2 separate regions of the Homo sapiens genome follow, and region 1 is linked to region 2. Evidence: fine-mapped expression QTL. Tissue or cell type: whole blood. Region 2 holds a variant in brackets; the other region holds the start of a gene. All regions are shown on one strand. Distances are between the middles of the regions.

Region 1 (2,586 bases), 650 kb after region 2:
TTTTATTCCCATGATGGCCATCCCTGTAACTAAATTTATATATATTTTAAATCAATGATAACTGCTACAGGACAGTTTCCTAGAATTGGAATGAATGAGTCAAAAGTTGTGCACAATTTTAGGGTTTTTTTTTCTTTTTTTTCGAGACAGGGTCTTGCTCTGTCTCTCAGGCTGGAGTGCAGTGGTAAGGGCATAGCTCACTGCAGCCTCGACCTCTCAGGCTTAAGTGATCCTCCTGCCTCAGCCTCCTGAGTAGCTGGGACTACAGGTGCAAGCCACCACGCCCTCTAGAGAAGCTTTGCTTTGGAATCTTTACCTGGAGTGTGTTGGAGTGCTTGTTTCCCAATCCCTTGATAAGTGTTACTTATTTTTTCTTTCTACCAGTTTAGTAGGTGAAAAACTTTTTTTTTTTTTTGAGACAGAGTCTCGCTGTATTGCTCAGGCTGGAGTGCAGTGGTGCAACCTCCGCCTCCTGGGTTCAAGCAATTCTCCTGCCTCAGCCTCCTGAGTAGCTGGGGCTACAGGCTTGTGCCACCACCCCCAGCTGTTTCGGTGTTTTTTTTTGTTTGTTTGTTTGTTTGTTTTTTTGAGACGGAGTCTGTTGCCCAGGCTGGAGTGCAGTGGCGCGATCTCGGCTCACTGCAACCTCTGCCTCCTGGGTTCAAACGATTCTCCTGCCTCAGCCTCCCGAGTAGCTGGGATTACAGGCGCACGCCACCACGCCCGGCTAATTTTTGTATTTTTAGTAGAGATGGGGGTTTCACCATGTTAGTCAGGCTGGTTTCAGAACTCCTGACCTCGTGATCCACCCGCCTCGGCCTCCCAAAGTGCTGGGATTACAGGCGTAAGCCACCGCGCCCGGCAGGTGAAAATCTTACCATTTTGCATGGTTTACATTTTTTTCTTTTTTGAGACGGAGTCTTGCTCTGTTACCCAGCCTGGAGTGAAGTGGTGCGATCTTGGTTCACTGCAACCTCCACCTCCAGGGTTCAAGCGATTCTTTTATGGTTTACATTTTAATACGCTTATTGATCATATTGTCCAATTTTTTGTGAGTTTCCTGTTCACATCCTTTGCCTATATTTTTTTGGGGGTGACACTTGTTAATTTGTAAGAGCTCTTTACGTATAGGGACATCAGTTTTCTAACCTGTAAGGAAGTCTTGGCTGGGAGTTGAAACCCCAGGCTAGAAGGCGACCCTTAGACTTTTTAGGTCTGATGGCGGGCCTATGCTGGTGTGGGAATAACACCGCCGGTCTCAGCTGGAGGTCGCCAGCCCTTTGCAAGAGCCTGCCGGTCCCCGCGGGCTGCAGCACACCCCGGCGCGATGTGCCCTGCCTGTGTCTGCCGGAGGCTGTAGTGCGCAGGAGCGGAAACCAGGCCGCCCTTCCCCCACCCGCTTCCGGCCGCGGCTCGGTTCTCCCGCCTCCGCCTCCGCCGCGGCTCGTGGTTGTCCCGCCATGGCACTGTCGCGGGGGCTGCCCCGGGAGCTGGCTGAGGCGGTGGCCGGGGGCCGGGTGCTGGTGGTGGGGGCGGGCGGCATCGGCTGCGAGCTCCTCAAGAATCTCGTGCTCACCGGTTTCTCCCACATCGACCTGGTGAGGGCCGGGCGCGCGCGCGTGAATGGCGGGCTGTGGTGCGGGGGCTGGGATTCGGGGGTTCCGGGGCTCCAGGGGCTCTGAGGCTCAGGGCCCGGAGCCCGGGACCGGAGTTGCGGAGCGGGGGCAGGCTGAGAGGCTCGGGTTGTGCCCCCCCCGCGGGAGGAGACTGTTCTTTGGGCACGGGGCGGGCCTCCGCTCGCTGGGCCGGCTCCGGACGCCGAGGAGGCCGCGGGCCCCCGCCTCCCCGGCAGCGCCAATGTGTGGCGCTTCGTGGGCGTGAAGCCGCCTCTTATCCTCCCTTCAAAACAAATTCCCGGCTGTTAGGAGATGCGGGAGAGGATTGAGTCCCTCGCGGATGTTGTGACTTTAATTTTGAGGTCCCTGTCGTAACTCCGAAGTAACGACGCGGGGCGGAGGATGGCAATGATAGCGACCAACGCGTCCCGAGCGCTGGTCACGAGCGGGTTTACACACGGAACGCGCACCATCTTCATACCACCCGAGGAGTGCAAACGCTATTTCCACCCTGCTTTATTTTTAACAGATGAGGAAAGGGAGACGCAATGGGGTTGAGTAACTTACCCTGGGTCACGGAGCGAGTGGCAGGGCTCCCGCAGGCTGCGTGACTGTCATTGCTCTCACAGTAGACGGTACACTCGCTTGTTTCATTAAAGACGTTAGGACTGTGCCTTTTGCATTGGTGTACGTTGACAAGCCAGTGCTATTTTGAATCGTTATTTCTACTAATGCAAACTTTTTAGAGATTGGAGATGTTACTGGCCCTTCGGTGTGAGTTTAAAGTGTCTTAAGGGCTAGTGGAAACATGGAATGAACAAAAAAGTACGGGTGGCCGACTGAGTCATTGTTTCTTTCCTTTATGTATTATATATTTAAGCAAAAATTAGATAAAACTTAAAACATGATACTTTTTTAACCATGTGTAAAAGTTTCCTTTCACAGTTCTCAGGTTAATAGTAAATGAAAT
Region 2 (2,586 bases):
CCAGGAGGCTGCCCTCTGTCTGTCCCTATTTGCTAGGGGAGATGCTGCTGATTCTCCACGTGGAGGTGCCACTGGATCCCTGGGTGGACCCCCAGGTGGAGGCCCTGCTGATTCCCAGGTGGAGAAACTGCCGGATCCCCAGGTGGAGGAACTGCTGGATCCCCAGATAGAGGAACTGCTGGATCTCCAGGTAGAGGAACTGCTGGATCCCCAGATGGAGGAAATGCTGGATCCCCAAGTGGAGGAATTGCTGATCCCCAGGTGGAGGAGCTGCTGGATCCTCAGTTGGAGGCGCTCCTGTATTACTAGTTGGAGGTGCTTCTGGAATCTCCCCAGGCTCACACCAGCCTGAGCTGCTCCATCTCCTTTTCTGCCTCCATCTTGGACCCTGGAACATTGCAAAGGGGAACAAGGCACTGAGCCTTCCTCCTGCCCCTTTGGGGTAACATCCATCCAGGAGATCTGAGAAGCAGGGAGACCTCCCTCGGGTTCCAGCTGGAAGCGGCTTGGACCATCCAACAGAAGTGACCCAGAGGGGCAGGGAAGAGGCTGTGGTCAGGGCCTGGGGAACTCTTGGGACCCGTGGAAGCTGAGACAGCAGATGCTGAGGGGCCCAGAAAGCCAGAGTAGCTGCCCTGCACCTTGGCCAGGACCAGGGTCCATGTGAGAGGAGACAGGGAAGTGCCTGGCTGAGGACAACCTAAAAAGAGGTGCCCTGGGTCCCGGTGCTCAAACGTGAGACCACGTTCATGTGCAGGAAAGTGTCCCTGGTCATGGGTGCATTTGGTGAAGCCAGAGGCAGTGCCCCTATGGCATCTGCTCAGCAGGGAACACCTGAACTCTCCGCTGACACAGCATCTGGGAGCAGCTTGGAGACAGTGAGGATGACACAGCCCCTCCCCTGGGTGAGCGTGTGTGTGCGTCTGCATGTGTGTGTCGGGGGAGAAGGCACATGCACTTGTATCATCTCTCAGAGAAACGCCGGCTCAAGCTGGACAGACGTGGACACACAACGCATCCATCAGTGGGGGGCTTTTGTTGCAGGTGGTGATGACAGAAGACAGGTGCAGGCAGTGACCATGATCACCACTTGACAGCCCTGAGAGTGACCTCCAACTGAAGGCCAGAGGCCCAGCCTGGA[G/C]ACCAACCCAGCTCCAACCCCCAACCCCAGCCCCAAACCTCACAGGGCTCAGGAAGAGCCGACTCAGTGCAGTGGTAGGGAAGTATGTGTGTGTGCACGTGTGCATGTGTCTGTGTGTGTGTCTGGGTGTCTGTGTGGGTGTCTGGCCTGTGCTGTGGGGTGGGTGGATGTGAGCGCGTATATGTCTATGTGTGTGTCTGGCCTATACTCTCCACATGTGTGTTTGTGAGTGTGTGTGTTTGGCCTGTACTGTGGGTGGGTGTGAGCATATGGATCATGTGGGTGGGTGTGTTTGTGTGGATGTCTGGCCTGTGCTGTGGGATAAACGGGTGTGAGCATGTGGGTGTGTGTGTCTGGCCTGTGATGTGGGGTGGGTGGGTATGAGCGTGTGTGTGTGTGTCTGTGTCTATGTCTGTGTGTGTGTGTGTGTTTCTGCCCTGTGCTGTAGGGTGGGTGGGTGTGAACGTGTGTGTGTGTCTCTGGCCTGTGCTGTGGGGTGGGTGTGAGCATGTGTGTGTTTGTGTCTGTGTGTGTCTCTGTGTGTATGTCTGGCCTGTGCTGTGGGGTGGGTGGGTGTAAGTGTATGTCTGTATGTGTGTTTCTGTGTGTGTCTGGCCTGTACAGTGTGAGTGTATGTTTGGCCTGTATCATGTGGATGGGAGTGAGCATACAGGTAATGTGGGTCTGTGTGTCTGCGTGGGTGTGTGTCTGTGTGGGTGTCTGGCCTGTGCTGTGGGCTAAATGGGTAATGAGTATGTGGGTGTGTGTGGGGGGAGGGAGGTATCTGGCCTGTGCTGTGGGGTGGGTGTGAGCGTGTGTGTGTGTGTGTGTTTCTAGCCTGTGCTATGGGGTCAGTGGGAGCGTGTGTGTCTGTGTGTGTGTGTTCCTGGAGTGAGGGGTGTGCATTGTGTGTGAGCCCGCGTCCATGCCGGGTGTGGGCTGTGTGCAGTCTGAGTCCTGCCCGTCTCCAGGACCATCTCGTGCACCTGCTCCTCGTCTCTCCCTGCCCATTCGCTGGCCATTTTGTGGATGTCACCTGGAAGGGGCCAACTGATCAGAGACCCTAGAAAGGGCCACTGGCAGCTCCCAGGGGCAAAGGAGGCCCATTGAGTTGGGAGAAGAACAGCCCAAGCCCCAGGGCCCTCCCCAGCTTGGTCCCCCTGTGGGCCCCTCCGGGCGGCCCCAGGGAAGTCCCTGCCAGGCCTCTGCCCTTGAGTGGCTGAGACCTCCTGGATGGGAGCCCCACTCTCTGAGTGGTGACGAGAACAGACGTCCCAAAGCCTAGGGTCCCTCCTGGGGCTTGGGAGCCCCAAAGGCCTTGAGTATCCTGGGGAGATAGGATTCAAGGTCCACACAGATGGTCAGGTGGGAAACTCGGGCAGTTCTGGCTCCCCCCAGCTCCCCCTCCTCCCTGCTGTCTCGACAGGGTTTGGTGGCCCATACAG

Evidence for each region. PIP is the estimated chance that this variant, and not a neighbour inherited with it, causes the effect.
Region 1: it holds the start of UBA2, and the variant in region 2 is fine-mapped to the expression of UBA2 in whole blood (INTERVAL, PIP 0.98).

The regions. Positions count from the first base shown.
Region 1 is chr19:34,426,973-34,429,558 of GRCh38, forward strand. It overlaps UBA2 (ubiquitin like modifier activating enzyme 2), which reads left to right and starts at 1,409. Exons shown (of 17, transcript NM_005499.3): 1 at 1,409-1,598. The coding sequence starts at 1,461. It overlaps LOC124904695 (a long non-coding RNA gene), which reads right to left and starts at 1,392. Exons shown (of 2, transcript XR_007067232.1): 1 at 1,150-1,392. RefSeq lists silencers at 1,297-1,536, 1,567-1,676, 1,747-1,906.
Region 2 is chr19:33,774,391-33,776,976 of GRCh38, forward strand. No RefSeq gene overlaps it. Among named protein-coding and RNA genes, the nearest start is that of KCTD15, 21 kb to the right of the region's middle. The variant G/C (reference allele first, on the strand shown) is at 1,142.